Linked DNA regions of Homo sapiens. The protein of the gene in region 5 interacts with the protein of the main gene of each other region in a biochemical or structural test. Each region holds a gene or a part of one and is shown on either strand. Other genes may lie near its edges. The genes, in order: BAG1, CLVS1, CDC42EP3, RAB29, LRRK1, TCF25 and FOXP1.

What was found.
Region 1: the proteins of LRRK1 (region 5) and BAG1 form a complex in vitro, tested with the Homo sapiens proteins (2 studies listed by BioGRID and IntAct, with this or other methods).
Region 2: the proteins of LRRK1 (region 5) and CLVS1 form a complex in vitro, tested with the Homo sapiens proteins (2 studies listed by BioGRID and IntAct, with this or other methods).
Region 3: the proteins of LRRK1 (region 5) and CDC42EP3 form a complex in vitro, tested with the Homo sapiens proteins (2 studies listed by BioGRID and IntAct, with this or other methods).
Region 4: the proteins of LRRK1 (region 5) and RAB29 form a complex in vitro, tested with the Homo sapiens proteins (one large-scale study listed by BioGRID).
Region 6: the proteins of LRRK1 (region 5) and TCF25 form a complex in vitro, tested with the Homo sapiens proteins (2 studies listed by BioGRID and IntAct, with this or other methods).
Region 7: the proteins of LRRK1 (region 5) and FOXP1 form a complex in vitro, tested with the Homo sapiens proteins (2 studies listed by BioGRID and IntAct, with this or other methods).

Annotation. Positions count from the first base shown.
Region 1 is NC_000009.12:33,258,209-33,261,708, reverse strand, and holds part of BAG1 (BAG family molecular chaperone regulator 1), read left to right. Parts: intron 1-539; coding exon 540-622; intron 623-2,675; coding exon 2,676-2,789; intron 2,790-3,500. UniProt on the Homo sapiens protein: Co-chaperone for HSP70 and HSC70 chaperone proteins. Acts as a nucleotide-exchange factor (NEF) promoting the release of ADP from the HSP70 and HSC70 proteins thereby triggering client/substrate protein release.
Region 2 is NC_000008.11:61,290,970-61,294,469, forward strand, and holds part of CLVS1 (clavesin-1), read left to right. Parts: intron 1-1,348; exon of another isoform or gene 1,349-1,485; intron 1,486-3,500.
Region 3 is NC_000002.12:37,665,143-37,668,642, reverse strand, and holds part of CDC42EP3 (cdc42 effector protein 3), read left to right. Parts: intron 1-3,500.
Region 4 is NC_000001.11:205,767,486-205,769,984, reverse strand, and holds the end of RAB29 (ras-related protein Rab-7L1), read left to right. Parts: 3' UTR 1-1,999; downstream 2,000-2,499. UniProt on the Homo sapiens protein: The small GTPases Rab are key regulators in vesicle trafficking. Essential for maintaining the integrity of the endosome-trans-Golgi network structure.
Region 5 is NC_000015.10:101,072,857-101,076,356, reverse strand, and holds part of LRRK1 (leucine-rich repeat serine/threonine-protein kinase 1), read right to left. Parts: 3' UTR 1-3,500.
Region 6 is NC_000016.10:89,904,592-89,908,091, forward strand, and holds part of TCF25 (ribosome quality control complex subunit TCF25), read left to right. Parts: intron 1-346; coding exon 347-505; intron 506-1,602; coding exon 1,603-1,693; intron 1,694-2,651; coding exon 2,652-2,731; intron 2,732-3,500. UniProt on the Homo sapiens protein: Component of the ribosome quality control complex (RQC), a ribosome-associated complex that mediates ubiquitination and extraction of incompletely synthesized nascent chains for proteasomal degradation.
Region 7 is NC_000003.12:70,968,229-70,971,728, reverse strand, and holds part of FOXP1 (forkhead box protein P1), read left to right. Parts: intron 1-923; coding exon 924-993; intron 994-3,500. UniProt on the Homo sapiens protein: Transcriptional repressor. Can act with CTBP1 to synergistically repress transcription but CTPBP1 is not essential. Plays an important role in the specification and differentiation of lung epithelium.

The DNA.
Region 1 (3,500 bases), on a different chromosome or scaffold from region 5:
ATTTATATTTCATAGTGTAACATATTGTCTTTAATTTTTAAAAATATTTTATTTCTGAATTATAAAGACAATAGAAATTCATGTTTCAAAATAGAGGAATGCATGAAAAAGAAAATGTTCCCCTGGATAAAACCCCTCATAATAACACTGTGTCATCAGCATTCATTGTGGTATTGGGGTTTCCTGCAAAAAATGAGCTTTAATGGCTACTGTAGACCTTAATGCCTACTGAAGACTTTAAAGTCTTCTGTAGTGTGGTTCGTTGGTCCCTGATTCCTGAATATTTGGCTCTTTCCAGTTTCTCACTATTATGAAAAGGTTGCACTGAATATTATCGTATAGTAGTTACTGTGGAGTCGCATGTCCAATTATTTGTTTAGGATAAATATCTGGAAATGAAATTACTGGGTCATGACACCCTCTAAAAAGATACCAGTTCTCATTAGTGAACACACTTGTCTATTTCCTGTATCCTGCTGAAATTTATTTTCAGTGTTGTACAATTATTACAACTTGGCCTACCTTTCTCCTCTTTTTAGGAAAATCTCTGAAGGAAATGGAAACACCGTTGTCAGCACTTGGAATACAAGATGGTTGCCGGGTCATGTTAATTGGGAAAAAGGTAAATTGCTTTTTCCATCAGAAATCCTCAGAATCAAATGACTGAAGTCTTTTATACATGTTTCTGTTTAGAAGACCAAACTGGGGACCCAGATTCTGCATTGATAAAACACCTCTCTAAACAAATACAATCTTTATTGGTTTTACAGGATTACCAGTTTTGTTGTTCTCATACCCTCCTGCTCCTGTTGGTTAGAACTTTTGCTCTAGGAATTAGGAGCGGTTGTGCTGCCTTAATAATATGTTTTTTGTTTTGGTGGTGGAATCTTGGTCTGGTTAAAATGGTGCCTGGGACAGGTCTCATTCACTTGGAGTAGAATTTGCAAGAGTCTTTTGTTAAAATAAACTTGTAGATATTAAGAATAATCACTCTGTTCCAGTTCAGGAGCCTCTCTCCCTTTAACCAACCTTTTAACTAAAATCTCCCACAAGGGAAAACCTTCGACTGGAAAGGAAGGTTCAGACTAAAGAACTGAGGGGAAAAAAAGACAGATGAGGTCAGCAACCCTTAAGGTGATGAGAGAGGGCTGTGGCCAGCCCTGCATTGTGACACAGCAGAATTATGAGCATATGAAGTTCCCTTATTGTGAGTTAGGTGGCTGAGTAGAGAGAGGGCAGATAAACAAAGTGAAGGCAAAAAAAATCTAATCCAGACTTGGAACTGCCAGGAGACTGGAACTCAGGACTTGCCACAAAGAGAAGTGAATAATTTGGGATAGCATAACTAAGCAGAAAGCTGCTAGACCTATCTATCAATTGTTTACCTGAGAGAAGAGGGAAATATTCTAAATTTCTTGCTTCAGGGTCAGGGAGAATGGTGATGGGCAACAGGCAGAACCAAAGAGTCAAGTTTGAAGAAACTATAGGACTTTTACTTGGAGCTGACACAGAGCGTATGGAGCGAAGTGTGAACTCAAGGAAGGCACCATGGCACATGCCTATTGTCCCAGCAAGTTGGGAGTCTGAGACAGGAGGATCACTTGAGTCCAGGGGTTTGAGGCTGCAGTGAGTTATGATCATGCCTGTAAACAGCCACTGCACTCCAACCTGGGAACCGTAGTGAGACCCTATCTCAAAAAAGAAAAAAGTCTGAACTTAAGTCTAATCTACCTCTTTTGGACTGTGTGATCTCATGTTACTTTACTACATTAAGCCTCAGTTTCATCATCTGTAAAACAGCAGTACTTCCCTGATGGAGTTGTGGTAAGGCTTAAAAAATAGGTAAGGTGCTTAGGATAGTGTGTGGCATGTAGGAAGTGTTCAATAAAAGTATTCATCGTTGTTAACCAGCATCACATTAAACAGGAGCGCTCAATTGGAGGCTGCCATTTAGGAATTCCATTTAAAGGAATGGTAGAATTCCACCTTTCTTGCCATTCTGGACTCCTCACAAGTGTTTACTGAAATGTGATTACCCTCCAGGCTTCAGTCTTGGTTGTTGATCAGTATAGGGCTGAGACTGAATCTGGCACTTGGATTGTCTCCATTCTCTGCACCCAAGCTGTCAGGGCCCTCACCAGAATGTTTACCTAACACCTTCTCTCTAGTCTGGAGTCTTTGTAGATGGAAAACTTGATGTATAACCCTTTGACTTGATTTCCAAGAAGCAACAGAGTTAAAACTGTTATTTCTAGGTGAGTGGCTTCATGCAGGTGTGGTCAGGTATTTTTCCTGACAGAGGCTGCTGTTCTTGTTGATTGCTTTTTCTTTTTTCTTTTTTTTTTTTGAGACAGTCTCGCTCTGTCACCCTGGCTGGAGTACAGGTGCACGATCTCAGCTCACTACAAACCTCCACCTCCCAGGTTCAAGCTATACTCCTGCCTCAGCCTCCCGAGTAGCTAGGACTACAGGTGCACGCCAGCATGCCTGGCTAATTTTTTTGTTTTTTTAGTAGAGACAGTGTTTCACCATGTTGGCCAGGCTGGTCTTGAACTCCTGACCTCAAATGATCTGCCCATCTCGGCCTCCCAAAGTGCTGGGATTACAGGCATGAGCCACCATGCCCAGCCTGTTCTTTTTGACTATTGGCTTTATTTTCTTCTTAAACATTTTAGAACAGTCCACAGGAAGAGGTTGAACTAAAGAAGTTGAAACATTTGGAGAAGTCTGTGGAGAAGATAGCTGACCAGCTGGAAGAGTTGAATAAAGAGCTTACTGGAATCCAGCAGGTAACTCTCTTCATGGACCTTAACTTTCTGCCTTCTATCAGAGCTTCCTGGATATAACTTGTGGTTATGGGGACATGTTCTGCAGTCAGACTCCCTGGGTTCAGATCCTGGATTCACCCTTTCTCTTACTGTGAACAAGTTTATCTTTGTCTCAAGTTCCTCATCTGTAAAAATGGAATAATGGTGACATTTCCCTATTAGGATTGTTGGGAGAATTAAATAATGTAGATTGAGCTTGACACATACTAAGTGCTTTATAAGCATTTATTGTCATAGTTATTGTCAAACCCCAGCCAGCATCCATTTATGCTCACAGGAGAGCACCTGCCTTGCTAGGATCATGTATTGTCTGAAATAGAACAAGTAGCTTCTCTCTGGGCTGTTGTAATGTGTTTGGCAAGGCAAATAACATTTTGTTGGTTCATAGAAGGTCCAAGTTGAACATGATAGTGGGGTTGGGGGAGTCATCCTATTCAATTCCTTATATTAGAGATGGGGTACTAAAACCCAGTAAGGATTAGGACTAGCTCAAGACCACTTTTATTTATTTTTCCCTCTCATTTTATAGCATTAATTGGGGTGTGTTTGTGTTTTGGCTTTTTTTTTTTTTTTTTTTTTTTTGATATGGAGTCTCGCTCTGTCACCCAGGCTGGAGTGCAGTGGTGCAATCTCAGTGGCTCCCTGTAGCCTCTGCCTGCCAGGTTCAAGTGA
Region 2 (3,500 bases), on a different chromosome or scaffold from region 5:
GTCTCTTTATTGAAACTTATGCTTAATTGCCAATCTAAGTTTTTCTTAGTTTAAGGGAAGTTTATATTCTTTTGCTTGATTCTTTATGGATTGAAAATGAACTGGCCAAACATCCCCTGCCCCATAAAAAGCTTCCATTTATTGAGATAATAAGTTCATTTTTCTTCCCTAAGTCTGATGCCTCCCATAGCCCTTTATTATACCTTCTCAGGTCAGGTTGCCCTAGGCTCTGTCCCTTTATGCACCTGTTCTGTGACAGGGAGTATCAGAGAAAGTTCCCTGTGTGGTAGGCTAATTTCCTGTGAGCTTTTGTGCTTGATAATTTCTGAGCCAGCAGAAATTTCTCCACATGTGTTTGAGATGATCTGTTCTTGTTTCTAGGATGCTTGTAGCCAAATCTGTTCCTAAATGTTGTGCAGACCACTGATGACTCCTTTTCTATCTATGCTCCTTAAAATAGTATCAAAGGTCTTAGACAAAGTTCCATATATTTGTGTGTCATTTACATAGCTTATTCAATTGTTCATTATTTTATAGTTTTGGAGGAAGTAGGAGAGAAGTTATGGGCCTGGGAATAGCATGTTGTAGGGGGGCGTGTTAAATTACAGGATCTGTACATAAAAACTTCTTAATATGTGGTCAAATTAAAACAAAATAAACAAAACCCATGAGATCTTTCACTCTTTCCTTTTTTCTCTTCTTCCCTCCTCCTTTCCCTCCCTCTCTCTAAATTTCCCTGCCTTCCTCTCTTCCTTCTTTTGTGGTTGATATATAGAGCATGCAAACATAGTGAGAGTAATTAACAGGGTGATCTGATAAACTATTATGAGTGCCATTGCTCCATAGGTAAAGAACACATTGTGGGTACTTTTATGTTCCTCCTGGACAGTGCATTAGGGCTGTCCACAGACAGCATGAGTTCTAGCCTCAGAGGCAATTAACCTACCTCTCAACCCCTCTGGGTCGTTATAAATCCTCTGGACCAGCTTTTCTCAAACATTAATTTGCATACAAATTGCCTGGGGATTCTGTTACCTGTTCAGTAGGTCTAAGTGAGTCCTGACATGCTGTGTCACTAACAAGGTCCTGGGTTCTGCTGCCACTGCTGATGCATGGACCACCCTTTGAGAAGCCAGGGCAAAGAAAAGTTTTTTTTTTTTTAATATTCTCACTTTTACGTCTGACTATTAAATAATAAGACCCATTCTAAAATGAAACAAAAACCACTCCATGTTCTGAAGAAATAAGAGCTCAGAAATTCTATTTCTAATTGAGGAGAAAGTTATAAAAATAGCCTCTTTCCTCCCACCTCACCCTTAAGCTTGCTGATGTGTTTTACTTTTCCCAGGCAGTTTTCTTAGCTGTGATTCCCACTGCTGCCATTGTCTGTGCAATCACATCCAGAAGAAGGGTCACGGTTACATGGATCTGCTGGGAAAACAATTAGTGGAAAAGGGGGCAAATAGAGTTAATGGCCGTTTTTGGGTGAGTCCTACCTTTCTTATCTCCTTTAGGTCCTCTTCCTTAAAAAAGAGAATCTATTCTTAGAGAAATACTCTTTCCCTTTGAAGACAGAAGGGTCAAGGTTTTTGTTTGTTTGTTTGTTTTCCTTTCTCTTCCCATTGATACCCCTAGGAAGCACAACTAATCTGTTTTAAAAATTGGGGTATCAACTGCCAATGACTTCTTATGGGGATAGTTGAATAGCCTACGAAACATTCCAGTCTAATATTCTATGACTCAACAATTATTTCCCTATATATTAACTTTGTTTAAGATACATTGAGGTGTAAGGTAAATGCTACTTCAATTAAAGACTTTTTCTACCAAACACAGTGAGGAGGAACAAAAATCTCATACTTTATAAGTTGGCATTCCCCTCAACTCCTTGCATTATTTGCCCCAAAGAAAACTGCAAAATGGTTCTAGAATCCTCTGTCACATAGGTCCTTCTTCCCTGAGTTGCAGTCTGTTCTAATTCTGACCTGGCATCTATTTTGGTTACAAAAGTTTTCAGTGTCTCTACTCTGATGGAGCTCATTCCAATCTACTTTTAACATTTCTTGAGAGCAGGACCAAATGGGAGCAAATGATTGTGTGCTTCTTTGCTGTTTTAAAGGGAGCCAAGGGAGTCTACACAATGAGTATTTATGTGGCAAGAGTTAGTCCTAGGCTAGGACTAAGCTAAAGGTGGTGAAAGGTGAACTGTGTAGCATGGGCTAAATTCTGGTCACGTTATGCTTTCAGATAATTCAGAGTCTCCTCTCTATCCTTGTAGACTACTCTCCCTGCCCCTAGTACAGATAGTTTATATCTGTAAGTTGGCTAACATTTAAAGAAAGTCAATGAATTCAGGGTCACTTTTTACCCACAGGTCTGATGTTCCTTAGCCAGTACTCATGCAGAAGTCCTACAAACCATAATGGCCAATCTGAAAATTCATCCATCAGAAAAAAGACTCCTTCTGGTCAGCACCATGGAACATGTAACCAACCAGCCTCTGAGATTTAAATATAGGCTAAATAGGCTGTAAGGGAGTGTATTATCTTTCAAGAAAGATTTCAAATAGAGTTACACTTAAAAAGAAATATTTTTGGTCACTATGATTTTCAGTTTTGGCTTAGATATATCAGCAGCATCTATTTTTATTTCATTCAGTATAAAAATTTCTTTTGGTATTCCTAGGTAAAAATTCATATTCAATTTAAAAATTTGAAGTAAGTTTTTAGCAAGGTAAAGAGCTATAAGGGTTAACCCAATTCAATATATATTAAAAATTTGGAAACAAAAATTCACACATACCAATGGATGAGTTAGTTGGTTAGACTTTCTGTACAAAGTGTTGTCACCGGTATTAATTTTTCATCCTTTTCTTATGAAAGAAACCCACAAAACAAATATGGCTATTGTTTCTTATTTTATATTTGTATTAATTTAAATTTATGTGTACTTAAAAACTGTTCTTTGTATTACTAAGAACACCCAGAAGCCATGCAAATTTGAAGTGTTGTTCAGCAGTTATTGATGTTCTTATATTTCAAATAATATTTAGGCTTTACAGATTTTATCTTTCTGATCATGACAACAATATTCTATTTCCTCCCCAAATTTGGGCAGTTTTACAACACCCCTTAAATGATGTCCTTTAGGACTGACAGGGTGTGGATGTGTGTCTATTATGTGAGTGTAGTTGAGTGTGAGGGCACCGGTACTCAGAGTGATGTTAAACAAGGCACCTACTTGGAGAGCAGAGTCTTGGACAAAACGTGGGTAAAGTAGGTTTGAGTGCAAATCTTTGTTCTTTCAGCCATATCTAAATCTCAGATTCATCTTTTCATCTAATAGTAATAACCTACCTTTAAGGATTGCTGTGGAAATTAGACTATATAATATCAAAGACCTTGGCATCTAATAAGTACTCCATGAATATTTGTTGGTTTTCCAACTTTAAAACAAGCTCATTATCTGACTTAGCTGTTATGTACCCCGAATATTTACCT
Region 3 (3,500 bases), on a different chromosome or scaffold from region 5:
TTTAACAACACAATATGTGCAGGCATGAGTGGCTAATCCTATGTGAAAGTCAGCAGCTCTTTGGGTTAAGGGGATGGGAAAAAAAACTGAACTTCTGAAGCCTCCGAGTCAGGCTGCCTGGGCACATGTCCTAGTTCTGGCACTTAACACCTGTGTGACTTTGGGCAAGTTACCTCACCTTTACCTCAGTTTATCCTTTGTAAAATGGAGATAATATTATTTCCCTGAGGATTAAAGGAGTTAAAAAAGATTATGTACTCAGAACAGTGCCTGGCCCAGAGTAGCCACAATAAAAGGTTGAGGTTTTCAATGTTGCTTTTGTTTTTTTCCTAGGTACTTAATACTGGTTCTGTCATGTAATATTCATAACTATTCTTTGAGAGAGATAGTACAGTGGTCCCCAATTACCCGTGGTTTTCTTTTCCAGGGTTTCAGTTACCCATAGTCAACCATGGTCTGAAAATAGGTGAATATGGGGCATTTTAAGAAAGAAAGAGACCATATTCATGTAATTTTTATTACATTGTTATAATTATTCTATTGTTAATCTCTTACTGTGCCTACTTTACAAATTAAACTTTATAACAGGTATGTATGTATAAAAAACAACATAGTATATATGGGGTTCAGTACTGTCCAAGGTTCAGGCACCCACTGGGGGTCTTGGAACATATCCGTGGAGGATAAGGCAGACTATTATATTGCTCTTCTTTTCCAGATGAGAACACAGGCTCAGAAAGGTTTAGTAACGTGGCCAAGGTCACACAGCTAAATAGCAGAAGCAGGGTTTGAACTCAGGTCTTTTTGACCTTATACTAAATACCACACCCCCACCAATGGGGAGGAGGGGCAGAGAAGTTGTTAAATCTGATTTTTGTTATGACTTTTGGCCTCTGGCAAGGAAATAATTTCATATCACCCTGTATCTCACAGTTGAAGATGACAGTAATTGCCAGCCTTGAGGAACACTATGTAAATTATTTTATTATTAAAGATGATTCAATCCCACATATGTGGCATGAAAGTGGATCTAGCATGAACACTGCTAGGGTTAACATAAGCAGTTTAATTTATGCCATAAACGAAGAGATTTACTAGGTGAAAATGTGGGACTATATGGTGAGAAAGCAAGCCAAGCCACAGCCAGGGACAAGGACTTCTGGTGGCTGGGGATGAAGTGAAGCTCTAGCATAGACTGTGTGCTCGCTTCAAAATTCTGGGGAGCCCGGGGTTGCAGAGTCCAGTAACCACCTGTGGACAATCCCCTCCTTGAAGGCAGGAACCACACTACCTGGGCCTTCAGTCCCGGCACTCAGTGGACGTTTTAGTCCATGTTTGTTGATGATGTTGCTGCAAGAACTCAGCAGAAGAGGAGCTACAGGTAAAGTGAACAGAAAGGCACTGGGCTGTGTCCATGGCAGAAGTCAAGCCCTGTTACAGTTCAGCATATCCCCTGGGCCCTGCTAGATAAGAAACACACAACAAGGAAACCTTTGAAACCTTGTCCTTACTGCTTGCCCCGGAAAACCCACAGGGCCTGCCTTGGCCTCCACTGCTTTGATGCTCTGGGTTTGTGATTAGCTGTGGGGATCAGCTCCAGAGACTTCTCAGATGGAAACAGGGTTCTGGAAAGGACAGTCCGAAGTAACTCAGGTAGCCTCAAAGCCAATGGTTACAGTCTTGGAGCTGTCCAATTCCATTTGAAATCTTCTCCTGTCCCCACCTCTTAAAGGCTACAAAACAAAACAATACCCCACAAACCAGAATAAGTAGCCATGTAGTTCTAAAGCAATAGTCAGGTGTGTTTCTTTCCTTAAAAAAAAAAAAAAGCTTTCTCCTTGATATACTTCAGTGCCAAGTTTCATCAGAATCACATGATGATGGACTGAATTTGACAGTACCTCTGGTAGAAAAGCAGTTTTCAAATTTTAACCATACAGTTTTATAATACAAAGCATGATGCTGAGATTTAAAAGATTACTATTTCTAAATAGCCAAGTAAACTGTGTGAAAGCTGATGAGTTCCAAACTAGTGTTTGCTTAGTCCTTACTGCTTGCCTAAGTCATGAATTAATAGAATTCTAGAATCCCAAATTTAAAACTTTTTAAAAAGGATTTTCAGTGGATTGGGTTTTATTTCCATATTGGATAAAGTTATTATTAGCCTTCTAGCCTTTGGCCCTTTGTTAAACCATGTTGCAGAGATCACACACCTGCAATTAGGTAACAGGGTACCGCCTAAAGTGTACCTCGAGCCATGAATGTCATAAAAGTATTCTGTGGGACCCCAGTTTGATGAAGGTCCCTTTCTGCAGGACTTCTCAGAACATTTAAAAAGCCAGTGTATATAGTGAATCTCCACAGGGAGGTCGTGTCCAGAGTTTCTCAAATGGTTTTGCCCACTGAGCAGCTGCAGGACCAGCCTGGCAGGAAACACACTCTGGGAAACACAGAACAGAAGCTACATAACCGCAGTATGTCCTACAGAGCCGAAGCAACCCAGGGACATTTTAGTTAGAGAACCACAGGCGTTACAGGAAGAGAGCGATGAGGATGTACCAGGAGATCCTGGCAAACGCTGATAAAACTAATGGAGAATTAAGTGAGGGCAATCAAAAGGGGTGTCTGTGTGTAGAAATAGAGATTAAAAAAATACCAATTCTGGTCTTAGCTCTGACCCAAATTGTATAACCTTGACCTCTTGGGGTTTTCTTGTTCTCATCCCTAAAACGTAGCATTTGGTGAGAGATGATCTCAGATAATCTCTGGCTCCAGAACAGTGAGCCAGGATCAGTGGCACCTATTAGCATAGCTATCTTACTACTAATAATGTAAGACTCTGGGTTGAAAAACAGACCCGTGCAGATCTCTGGCAGAGCAGCCTGAGCAAGCGTGGAAGGCAGGGAACTTCCAAGTCAGGCCTCTATTTAGACAGCTTCCACATTTGGGAATCCGTCATGTTCTGGTGACAACCTGAAGGTCCTATTTGTAGACACATCATGCCAATGATAGATCGTTGTCATGAGTTTAGTTGAAAAAGAGCTTTTCTGTCCAAATACATCATAATCATTTAGGCTACATACATTTTTTAAAACAAGCAGAGGCATTTTTGGTGAAATGTGGCTTTGCCATTCAGAATGTGTTTGATTTCTCAACCTTTTTATTTATTTTTTAAACTTTTGTTTTGCCAAGGGTCAGTTCAGACTTAAAACATTGATTTTAACACAGCGGGAGATGAGGCTCTAAGCCTTTGGCTGACCAGCTAGTCAGAAAACAAATCCTTCCCCTTCTCTGGGCAGGCTCCATCCCATCACCTGTGAAAAAAAATGGCAGAGTGGGAGGGTGGGGATGGGAAGGGAGGCCAGAGAAGTGTGTGGATGTTCCCCAGGCCCTCTCCTGGCCCTAAACTGTGATTCTGTTCCTCTTTTTTCTTGTATCAGAGGCATTTCCATAGTGTCTTGTATCTTCTCCTATTGTAACACTTACTACATTTAAGTTAT
Region 4 (2,499 bases), on a different chromosome or scaffold from region 5:
ATTCATTGATATCATGACTTCCAATTGAGAGGAAAATGAGATCAAATGTCATTTCCCAAATTTCTTGTAGGCCGTTGTTTCAGATTCTTTCTGTCTTGGAATGTAAACATCTGATTCTGGAATGCAGAAGGAGGGGGTCTGGGCATCTGTGGATTTTTGGCTACTAGAAGTGTCCCAGAAGTCACTGTATTTTTGAAACTTCTAACGTCATAATTAAGTTTCTCTTGTCTTGGCATCAAGAATAGTCAAGTTTTTTGGCCGGGCATGGTGGCTCATGCCTGTAATCCCAGCACTTGGGGAGGCCAAGGCAGGCGGATCACATGAGGCCAGGAATTCGAGACCAACCTGGTCAGCATGGCAAAACCCCGTCTCTACTAAAAGTACAAAAATTAGCCAGGCGTGATGGCACGTGTCTGTAATCCCAGCTACTCTGGAGACTGAGGTGGGAGAATCGCTTGAGACTGGGAGGCAGAGGTTGCAGTGAACCGAGATCATGCCACCGCACTTCAGCCTGGGTGACAGAGAAGGACTCCGTCTCAAAAAAAAAAGAAAAAAGAATAGTCATTTTTAAACTACCTATCTCATGCAATGAAAGCATTTTCTTCCACAAAGAGCTTAATCCTCATGATAGGATTGCCTAGTGTCTCCCATTTGCAGGTTTCTGGGTTGATGTCTTAATGCATAATACTGCAAGTGACATCAGCTGGCTGTGATGCTTCGAAATAGGTCTGCTCCTCACAGCTTTGGGAATCTGAATGGAAGAAGAAAAGAGAGAAGTTAACAACCTCCACTGGGGCAACTTTGTGAACACGTAGGCACTTAGTCATAGGAAACATATTATGTGCAGGTCCTAGCCTGGGGGAGGAAAGTAGATAGACAGAAAATCATTAGGTAATTTAAGTACTAAATTGGGCAGGGCTTTTTAGTATCAAATCACTACTAGACCATTTAATTTGTTAAATTATCTCTAGGATGGTGATTTATAACCTACCCAAAGTTATCGATATTCTTACTAAACTCTGAGGCCTGAAGTTCTGTGATAGACCTTAAATAAGTGTCCTAAGTCAGTGGTTCCCAAATCTGGCTGGTCGGGAATACCTGGGAAGTTTGTTAAAATTTTTTAAAAATGTTTTAAGATTTTTGGGTCCTGAGCCAGCCGTGGTGGCTCACACCTGTAATCCCAGCACTTTGGGAGGCTGAGGCAGGTGGATCGCCTGAGGTCAGGAGTTCAAGATCAACCTGGCCAACATACTGAAACCCCGTCTCTACTAAAAATAAGAAAAATTAGCTGGGCGTGGTGGCGGGCACCTGTAATCCCAGCTACTTGGGAGACTGAGGCAGGAGAATCGCTTGAACCTGGGAGTTAGAGGTTGCAGTGAGCTGAGATCACACCATTGCGCTTCAGCCTGGGCAACAAGAGTGAAACTCCATCTCCAAAAAAAAAAAACAAAAAGAAAAAGATTTTTGGGTCCCGACCTCAAACCTACTGAATCAGAATTTCTAGGGATGAAGCCTAGGAATGTGTTGTTGTTTTCAGAGCTTCCCTGGTGATTGTGATAAGCCTGGTTTGGAAACCATTGCTGGAGAACTTTGTAAAGATACAGAGACCCAGACCTTTTGTATTTACATTTAAATACAAATACAAATCCTGGGTTTCTATATATTCTGTTAGCTTTTCAGGTGATTCTGCTACACAGACGTTGAAAACCACTGCCCTAAGAAAGAGATCAGAGGCCACATATCAGAGAGAAAAGGGACCAAACCTTCGGTGGTTTGTTGTGTGTCGTTTTAATGCCAATTATTTTAACTTGCACAGTCTTCTGAAACCTTGTATTAATAGTTCTCTTTTGTATTACCATTTTCAGGTAGGGTTTTGATCACTATGATTCTGAAGATAATAGTGAAATAGTGAATTTCATTGATATGAAGAGATAATTGATTTTCATTCATTGGTTTGAACACCTGCAAAATCACAAATAAATGAGAACTAAGTCTTGTATTCATGGTGGTTATTGGCCTTTAATGTGAGTTTGTCAAAGTGCTGTTTTATACTGATAGCTCAAGAGGATTGCGGAAATGGAGACTTTATTTTTTAAATACCTTTTTCTAAATTTTCAATTCAAGGGGTACGTGTGCAAGTTTGTTACATGGATATATTGTGTGATGCTAAAGCTTGGGTTTCTGCTTAGCCTGTCTCCCAAGTAGTGAACATAGCACCCAGTCGGCACTTTTTCAACGCTTACTCCCTCTCTCCCCACTTTTGGGAGTCTCCAGTGTCTGTTGTTCCCATCTTTATGTGTGTGCCCAATGTTTACCTCCCACTTACAAGTGAGAAATGTGGTTAAATACCTTCTTTTAAAATGAAGGTAAATATTATTCTGTTTACCTGTTAACTTACTAATACCAATTGCTTAGATCCATCTGCCTAGTACCAATTCAGTACTTGATGGAACATGCCAAATACTACTTGGAAACGTGACCTTTTTGAAAAACTGAATG
Region 5 (3,500 bases):
GACTCAATAAAGAGTGAGTACAGCTGAAGGAGCCGGGGAGCAGAAAGTATATATGTCAGGTATGAGGAAGAAAATAGATTTTGGAAGTTATGATAACTGTAGAGAGTGAGTTGAGCATAGTTTGTGATTTTGAGGGCCTCTAAAAGTATTAGGGTGGCAGCAGCCGCTGCACAGAGACATGAGGGCTAGGCTAAAACAGTAAGGTCAAGTTGTTTGGACAGAAGGTCTACAGGGTGCGGTCCTGGCTCTTGTGTAAGAATTCTGACTGCACTAACCATGCCTAGGAAGGAAAGGAGTTCTTGTTTTGTAGAAGGGGTTGGGGTTTGGGAGATTAATCGGACATGATCGGCAGGGAGAGCACGTGTGTCTTTATGAGAATTATGCTGAGATAGGTAACAGATAGGGAAAAAATTTGGGCTTGACTGATGTAATGGGGGCTGTCTGTGAAGCTTTGGGGCAGTACAGCCCAGGTAATTTGCTGAGCCTGATGGGTGTCAGGGTCAGTCCAAGTGAAAGTGAAGAGAGGCTGGGATGAAGGGTGCAAAGGAATAGTAAAGAAAGCATGTTTGAGATCCAGAACACAATAATGGATTATGGAGTGAGGTATTGAGGATAGGAGAGTATATGGGTTTGACACCATGGGGTGGATAGGCAAAACAATGTGGTTGATAAGGCACAGATCCTGAACTAACTTGTAAGGCTTGTCTGGTTTTAGGACAAGTGAAATGGGGGAATTGTAAGGAGAGTTTATAGGCTTTAAAAGGCCATGCTGTAGCAGGAGAGTGATAACAGGCTTTAGTCTTTTCAAAGCATGCTGTGGGATGGGATATTGGTGTTGAGCGGGGTAAGGGTGATTAGGTTTCGATGAGATGGTAAGGGGTGCATGATCGGTCACCAAGGAGGGAGTAGAGGTATCTTATACTTATGGGTTAAGGTCGGGGGATACAAGAGGAGGACACAAAGGAGGCTTTGGATTGGGAAGAAGGGCAGTAATGAGGTGTGGCTGTAGCCCAGGAATAGTCAGGGAAGCAGATAATTTAGTTAAAGTGTCTCAGCCTAATAAGGGAACTGGGCAGCTGGGGATAACTAAAAGGAGTGCTTAAAAGAGTATTGTCTAAGTTGGCACCAGAGTTGGGGAGTTTTAAGAGGTTTAGAAGCCTGGCTGTCAATACGCACAACAGTTATGGAGGTAAGGGAAACAGGCCCTTGAAAAGAAGGTAATGTGGAGTGGGTAGCCTCCGTATTGATTAAGAAGGGGACGGGTTTACCTTCCACTGTGAGAGTTACTGGCAGCTCGGCGTCCGTGATGGTCTAGGGGGCTTCCGAGGTGATCGGGCAGTGTCAGTCTTCAGCCGCTAAGCCAAGAAGATCTGGGAAGGAGTCAGTCAGAGAGCCTTGGGCCGGAGTTCCAGGGGCTCTGGGAGTGGCTGCCAGGTGAGTTGGACAGTCCGATTTCCAGTGGGGTCCCGCACAGATGGGACACGGCTTAGGAGGAATCCTGGGCTGCAGGCATTCCTTGGCCTGGTGGCCAGATTTCTGGCACTTGTAGCAAGCTCCTGGGGGAGGAGGTTCTGGAGGAATGCCTGGCCGCTGCAGTTCAGGTGTTTGGAAGTTCTTGTGTGCTGGAGATGTGGCTGGGGTTTGTCTCACAGTGGAGGCAAGGAATTGCAACTTTTTTCTATTATTGTACACCTTGAAGGCAAGGTTAATTAAATCCTGTTGTGGGGTTTGAGGGCCGGAATTTAATTTTTGGAGTTTTATTTAATGTAGGGAGCAGATTGGGTGATAAAATATATATTGAGAATAAGACGGCCTTTTGGGCTTTTAGGGTCTAGGGCCGTAAAGTGTCTCAGGGTTGCTGCCAAACGAGGCATGAACTGGGCTGGGTTTTTATATTTGATGAAAAAGAGCCTAAACGCTATCTGATTTGGGATAAAGAAAAAGGAGCATTAACCTTGACTATGCCTTTAGCTCCAGCCACCTTTTTAAGAGAAAATTGCTGGGCAGGTAGGGGAGGGCTAGTCACGGAAGGAAACTGTAAGCCGGACCGGGTGTGAGGAGGGGAGGTGATAAAAAGATTATATGGTGGAGGAGCGGAGGCTGAGGAAGAATTGGGACCTAGCTCGGCCTGGCAAGGAGCAGCCTGGGGAGGAGGGGAGAGGTCAGATGGGTCTATAGAAAAGATTAGAAAGACTCAGCGATGCTTGGGGTTGGGACTGAGGAGACAGGCGGGAGGGAAAGAAGGAAGATTTGGGATGAGTTGCACTGGGAACAGAGACTAGGGAGGGACTGATGTGTAAAAGAACGCCTGGACGTCAGGCACCTCAGACCATTTGCCCATTTTACGACAAGAATTATTTAGATCTTGCAGGATGGAAAAATTGAAAGTGCTGTTTTCCGGCTATTTGGAACTACTGTTGAGTTTGTATTGGGGTCAAGCGGCATTGCAGAAGAAAATAAGGCATTTAGGTTTTAGGTCAGGTGTGAGTTGAAGAGGTTTTAAGTTTTTGAGAACATAGGCTAAGGGAGAAGAAGGAGGAATGGAGAGTGGAAGGTTGCCTACAGTGAAGGAGGCAAGTTTAAAGAAAAGGGAGAGTAGAGACACGGAGAGAAGCGGTTCAGGGGTTCTTACTCTCCAGAAAAGTGGGAAAGGGGTCGGGGTGCAGAGATACGAGGTCGGGATGTGGAAATAAGGGATCAAGGTGCAGAGATATAAGAGGTGGGGGCATGGAAATAAGGGATTGGGGCACAGAGATAAGAGGTTGGGGCACAGAAATAAGGGATTGGGGCGCAGAGATATGAGGTTGGAGTACTTGCTCCTCCTCTAGAAAAGCGGGACTTGCCGCTCAGGGTGAAGGAGAAGGGGTTGGGGGTTTCTTGCCCCCCAGAAAGGCGGAGAAGGGGTAGAGACACGGAGAGAAGGGGTTGGGGTCCTTGCCCATTCCCCAGAAAAGCGGGACTTGCCGCTAAGGGTGAAGGACCAAGGCAGGCGTCCCTGCGTGGTCTGACACCTCTGAAACCTGGGTGAATAATCAGAGAGGTGTCCCTGCAATGATTAAACACCAAGGGAAGGCTGCCTTCCCAGTCCGTGACCGGCGCTGGAGTTTTGGGTCCACGGATAAAACGTGTCTCCTTTATCTCTACCAGAAAATGAAAGGAATTGAAGTTAAGAGAAGGGAGAAATTGAAGTGTGGCGCCAAGATTGAAAGGAGAAAGAGGTTGAGGGATAGTGAGGGAGGTTGGAGAAGAGAGTAAAAAGAGGCTGCTTACTGGATTTGAAATTGGTGAGATGTTTCTTGGGCTGGTTGGTCTGAGGACTTGAGGTTGTAGGTGGATCTTTCTCATGGACCAAAGAGCAGGAGGACAGGGGATTGATCTCCCAAGGGAGGTTCCCCCCCCCCTCCCCCCGCGCCAGTTACGGCACCAAATTTAATGCACGTCCATGTGAAGAGACCACCAAACAGGCTTTGTGTGAGCAACAAGGCTGTTTATTTCACCTG
Region 6 (3,500 bases), on a different chromosome or scaffold from region 5:
ACAAAGAGGGAGCAAACACAGGAGAAAGTGCACGCCTTGGGGTCATCCCCTGGCCCTCCAGGGCTCGCCCTGTGTGCACGCAGATGGACCCGCCCTGGGTGCATTTTCACATTTCTGTGACGTCAGTCCTGCTTCCTAAAGAACATAACCTGCCCAACAGGCTCACGGCACATACCTGTGTGCCCCAGCCCCACGCCCTCAGGCCAGCAGCCCAGGGGCCTCCTTTCACTCCAGGCCACAGGGCACTCCCTGGACCCCCCGTCTGCCCATCCATGGGGCTCTGCCAGCCTCGAGGCAGGCTGTGGTCTGAAGAGGGGTTCTGCTCAGAGCCCTTGCTCTCCCCCAGCCAGCCCCCTGCCCTGAGCCAGCTGGTGAACCTGTACCTTGGGAGGTCACACTTTCTCTGGAAAGAGCCCGCCACCATGAGCTGGCTGGAGGAGAACGTCCACGAGGTTCTGCAAGCAGTGGACGCCGGGGACCCAGCCGTGGAAGCCTGTGAGAACCGGTGAGCTAGGGGTTGACACAAGCCCTGCCACGCCCCCTCCTCAGGGACCCTCATCCCAGACACGGGGGCCTCGCATTCGGGAGGCGAGAAGGGCTGTGAGCAGCTTGGCCTCCCTTGCTGTGGGGCCTGTGTGGAGCCTACAAGACAGCGCACAGCCCCTGGCGTGTCCCAGAGGCTTCCTGGGAGGCAGCTGTGGTGATCAGCGCAGGGTACCGAGCTGCTGTTCCCGGGTGCCTCGGGCTGGAGTGGTGCCTTCGGGTCTTGCAGTGTTTCCACATGAGCTGTGAGATGATGACGAGTCTCTCACAGCAGCATCTTGGGAGTAAAGAAATCTGGCAGAGACGAGAAAGAGTCTCCTGTCCTGTGTGTGAACACTTCGGAGGCTCATGCCCTAATATGCTGCAACTGACAGGCATCCCCTTGCTGTTCTTGTCTCGTTTGTCTGCGCCCTTGGCCCTGTGCTAGTTCTGTGCATCAGCACCGTGGCTCTGTGCAGTGGTGTGGCCAGGCTCAGGACCGCCTGGGAGTGGTGCCCATTTGCATCTCCACAGTGAAGTCTGTGTGCCGCGGACATGAGGTGTGCCCGGGGGTGCCCAAGAGGCGCTGGTGCCCCCAGCCGCTGGCAGTCATGGGCCCGTCCGCGTGTCTGCTGTCCCCACTGGACTGGACATTCTCATGGACAGGAGCATTTTGTTCCCTGTACTGCTCTCCAAGAGCGATTTCCAGCAGGGACCAGTGCCTGTGCCTGTAGCCGTAGCAGTGACGATGGTGACACACCCAGGTGTCCCTTCATGGAGATGAACTCAGTGACTTCCCACAAGAAGCCACTGGCTACGGCTCTCATCGTTCTTGTTCTTTGGATGAAGAGGCTGAGTCACTGGCCATGTGGCTGGGATTGGTCCCCAGAGGCTCCCCAGCCGCAGGCCAGGGACCAGCCATGGTGCCTCTGCTCGAGAGTAAAGTGTACAGTTTTTGCAGCCACCAGAGATGCAGCGAGATGCCTCGTGCTGGGTGGGGGTGGGGGCCGAGGCTCCATGGCGGTTACCATTTCATTTGCTGTGCTTTATCTGCTGTGCCTTGTTTCTCCCCGGCCCTAGGCGGAAGGTGCTCTACCAGCGTGCACCCAGGAATATCCACCGCCATGTGATCCTCTCTGAGATCAAGGAAGCCGTCGCTGCCCTGCCCCCGGTAAGGGAGAAAGGCTGAAATGGGAGCTCTGTGTAAGCCGGTCACATGCACGTCCCTTCTGCTCCGGGCGGTCCACATGCAGGCGTGCGTGGTGCGGGCTCCCTCAGCAGCCCAGCCCCGCCACGGCAGGGGCAGGGTCTAGTGCAGAGGGCTCCTCCTTTCCTGGCAGCCCGGGTTCGGATGCTTGTTGTTTTGAGAGAGAAATCCTTTGGGGCTCAGAGCACAAGCTGAGTCGTCACCGTGGTGAGCTGCTCCATCCGTGGTCTTGTGAGCGCGTGGTGCGGCTGCTGGGGGATTCTCTGTAGTCGTGGGGTGTAGTCCTGCTCTGACGCCTCCTGTGCTGGAGGTGCCGTTTCTGTCTCAAAACCTAAGGAGTTTGTACTGTTGTTAAGGGATAAGATAGAACGAGTGAGAAAACCAGCAAGTCAGAGGGTCGCAGGACCGTGGACCGTCCACTGGGGACAGCTTAGTGCCTCCTGGTTTAACTTCAGCTGCTCTGCGGGCCCTTATGACCGGCATGGCTGGCTTTGTCTGGGGCTGTGAGCTTCTGACTCTCCTCAGTAGAGTGGCAGCACGTGGCACTGTGCAACCCGAGGGCAGCTCAGGGTCCCTGTAGCCTGCATTTGCTGAAGTGGGAGCTTCTGACACGTGGTGAAGATGTTGGCAGGCTTGAGCGGCACGTGACCCCCTTCCTTCCCCACCACACACTCTGGTGTGCAGGGCAGACGCCGTGCAGGTTCATCTCGACTCCCGTGAGTGTCCTGGTGGCAGAAGGACTGTCCCACCCTCACCCAAAGCTCGTTGGTACAAAAAGCACAGCCGTTTCTGTCAGACTCTGTGGCTATCTCTCAGCAGATGCATCCAGTCCATGCTGGAGTCGACAGAAGGACTCTGCTGGGAGAGGTAGAGGCCCCCTGGCAGCATCTGTAGCATCTTCGTTTTATGTCCCTTTCTGAAGGACGTGACCACGCAGTCTGTGATGGGGTTTGATCCTCTGCCTCCTTCGGACACAATCTACTCCTACGTCAGGCCAGAGAGGTACCTCCCTCCTTCCAGTTCCCACCTCCCAGCTCCCACCTCCCTCCTCCCAGTTCCCAGCTCCCAGCTCCCACCTCCCAGCTCCAACCTTCCAGCTCCCAGCTCCCACCTAGCAGCTCCCGGCTCCTGGCTCCCACCTCCCTCCTCCCACCTCCCACCTCCCAGCTCCCACCTCCCTCCTCCCACCTCCCACCTCCCTCCTCCCAGTTCCTACCTCCCATCTCCCAGCTCCCAGCTGCCACCTCCCAGCTTCTGCCTCCCTCCTCCCAGTTCCCACCTCCCAGCTCCCACCTCCCAGCTCCCGCCTCCCTCATCCTAGTTCCCACCTCCCAGCTCCCAGCTCCCTCCTCCCACCTCCCACCTCCCTCCTTTCACCTCCCACCTGCCACCTCCCGCCTCCCACCTTCCAGCTCCCGCCTCCCACCTTCCAGCTCCCGCCTCCCTCCTCCCAGTTCCCACCTCCCACCTCCCAGCTCCCACCTCCCAACTCCCTCCTCCCACCTCCCACCTCACCTCCCTCCTCCCTCCTTCCAATTCCCACCTCCCAGCTCCCAGTTCCCACCTCCCAGCTCCCGCCTCCCACCTCCCAGCTCCTGCCTCCCTCCTCCCAGTTCCCAGCTCCCACCTCCCTCCTCCCGCCGCCTAGCTCCCACCTCCCAGCTCCCGCCTCCCACCTCCCAGCTACCGCCTCCCTCCTCCCAGTTCCCAGCTCCCACCTCCTACCTCCCAGCTCCCGCCTCCCACCTTACAGCCCCTGTCTCCTCCCTCC
Region 7 (3,500 bases), on a different chromosome or scaffold from region 5:
CCCCCTCTCTCCCCACCCCAAGTAAAAAGGGAATTTTTGGTTAGTTAAAATGTGTGTATATACTATTGGGGTAGATTTCTTATTTGTTCACTCACTATAATAATACAAATGTAATGAAGTGAATGACTAAAATGTTCCAAGCATAGTAAAGAAATAGGTCATATTGCATACACTTCCTTTAAAGACCACTGATAAATGTAGGTAATTGCCTACTGGGAGGCACCCTTTTCCCTCAGTATGCCCTATGTAATTTTTTAATATTTTTATCCTTACGAGGCTAGAGATTTTCTGACAACAGTATGTTAGTTTCATTTGGTCCGTGAATGGAGATGGCAGCAAATATTCTCAGACCCTCCCAGATCTGGCTAAGACATCCCCTTATTTAGGAACGACCCTCCCCTGGCATACCCTACTCTCCATCGCCTGTTGGCAATAAACGTGCCTTGTGGATATTCCTTAAAAGCCTTCCTGCCATCCCTCTAGCAGTCACTGTAAAGTTCAAATCTCAAAGATGCTTAGGAGCCAAGATTCTCTCTGCTCGTGCCCAGCAGCCCCTGCTGTGAGCTCACTGCCTTCCCCAGCACGACCTCCTAGGCTGCTGCCTTCCTTTCTGTTGGAGTCTGGAGTCAGGCTAACTCCTAAAAATCTGCAGAGAGGTCTCTGGAGGGAGGACCCAAGCCTGTTACTACCTAAGCCAGAATTTTACACCTAGTTTCCTTGAATAGAGAAGTCCAACCCCAGAGGTGTGCACACACACCCGCCCTGCAAATCAGTGACGGGGAGAAAGCCTGACTTTTCTTGGGTTTTGCTAGTGGGGGAAATTGCTCATTTGGAAGGGCACCAGCAAGCTTAAAACAAAACTTAGCTAGGAACTCAGCAGTCGACTGTGTTTAACTTTGAGTTTTTATGTTTTTCTTACACAGTAACCCTTCCCTTATTAAAAACATGCAGAGCAGCCACGCCTACTGCACACCTCTCAATGCAGCTTTACAGGTAAGATTAACGGCCGTCCCGAATATGCAGCAGAGGCACAGGTCTCCCCTACTCATTTCAAAATATATTAGCCTTGCTCTAATTAGATATTAAATTTTAATTCCGTTAAACTTTTTTCTTAAGTGCACAAAGCATCATACTCCCTGGAGGCAAACACATCGGGCTGCTTCAGCGTTAGCGGGATGCTTAGCATTTTGAATATTGTGGCAAAAAAATTAAAAGTTCACTTATTAATATTTATCAGCAGTATCATAATTTCCATCCTCTTATTTCAGAATTTCACTTGAGGCAAAAATACCACAAGTGTAATTACTCTAGCACAGCTATTAATGTGCTGGATGATAGGCCACTGCGTCACATGACCTTCTATTGTTCATGGGTTTAAAGAGAAAGCAGGGCTTTGTATTTCTTTTTCTTCTTTTAAAGTCGACTGTAGCATCTTGGCTTTTGTCTGGGGTGGGGAGGATCTGGGGTCTGGTTCACTTTGTAAAAGTAAACCATGTCTGTTTAAACAATAGAGGTGTTTAAGAAGACTCTTTAGTTTTCCTGCAGATTGTTCAAGATTACATGATAATCACACGGAGTATTTATTTCCTACTGACAAACCAAGTACTTGTTACATCACCAATGGTACCAGGAGATGAAGACGCGGGTTTTGAGCAGGAGCGAGATTACCACCCAAAAAGGAGCTACCTGAGGCAGCCCAGCTTCTAGCAAACTTTTTACATGTTGCACATTTCAGTTCTTAAATGAAGGCTACTCCAGTGTCATTTCATTAAAGTACCTGGGTGTAGTACTCAAGTCCCCCCTCAAGAGTTCATAAGTAAGCAGTATCCTTTTGGCCAGTGGTCCTGTTTTTGCCCCTACCCAGACTGTTCGAGAAGCATATTCTATAGATAAATCTGACATTTGTCATCCAATACCATTGCAGTCCTCTGCAGCATACATTCTCAATGGGGGCTGTATCACCCCTAGATTGGTTCTGAGATACTGCAATGTCTTGTGTCCTTCCAAAGGACCATAATACTTGAGCAAATATGAACATTTCTTGGGGTGAGGGCAGAAAGAGAGAAACAAAAGTCTAAAAAGGGACAATAATGAAAAAACAGTTGAGACCTTTAGTATGATGGGAACAGGATGAGGAAGGAGGAGATACTGACAGGAGCCCTGGGTCTTGCTCTGCATTAAACAGATATTTATGGACATTAAACAGATATTTATGGAGCACGACTCTGTACCCTACAGGCCCAGAATAGTCTTAAGGCTCCTGGGAATTGATGATAGGCCATTTACCCAGTTTCAGTTTAGAGGCAGATTCACTGGCCTTAGCATTTCAGTAATTATATTTATTTATTTTTAGCCTGAACCAGATTTAATAGGAGAAACTACTTTCTGCGTTTCTTTTAATTACTTGTAGTTTACACAGTAACTTTAGAAGAGTAAATGAAAGCATGCTTCGATGCTGCCACTGTAAATACCATTCATTAGTAACTTATTTTCCCTGGAGTCTTGTGAAGTGTGAATTTAAAGCCTGCTCTATCTGGAATATGGAATAGTATTAAGATTACAAGCACATTTTATATTCATGAGCCGGAAAGGCAAAAAAAAAAAAAAAGTGATCCTCCATCCTCTGAATTCTCTTAACTATGTGACTAATTTCAATTAGTATGCTTTGTCATTACAGAACTGTTCAGGTTTCATCTCTGAACATTTGCTTTTGGCATCTTCTTCAGTAGCCCAAAACTGTCCTGCCGTTTTCCAAGAACACTTTCCGTCCATAATGAGGCAAGGGGAATAAATTGATACAAATTCATGATTTGAGAAGTGGATTGTTTCCCTCTCTTCTACGAGTTTGGATCCCTGATCAGTAGACAGACACATAAGACAACTTTCTACTGTGCAAATTAAATAAGGATTCTGCCAGCAGGCCTTCCTTTCCATTACCGCCTATTTCCATTTTTCAAGACAAGTAAAAATAATAGTGGAACAATATCTTCAAAAAAATTACTAGAGCAACATAATGCATGATATACAATATATAAAATAGGACAGCAGAATCCACTACAGAAATAAAACATGGGACTTGGGACAGATTGCATTATGCTCTGAAAAGTGAAGTAACTAAGGGTAACCGTAAAGCTTCGTATTTATAGACTGCCTTTCCCCTGAGGATCTCAGAGTGGTTAATGTTCCAGGAGCGAGGGTGCTTATGGACTTCTGCACCATTACTTAAGCAACTTCATTTTTTGGCAGAGGTGCCAGCTTGATATGAAACCACATGCTGTGCAAGGACCATTTATATAATTAACTCCATTTTTGTAACACACCTGCTTCTAAGTGGACATCAACTACCAAAAAAAAAAAAAAAAAAACACTTTGTTAGGCAGAAGCAGTTAGTGAAAATTTATCTAACCTTGGGTGGGTTGCTCTGATCACTTGCTTAACAGAGAGCGTGTTCAAGAAGCTCTCTTGCGGATCAGGCACTGGGATCTCTCTGCAGCCCATTT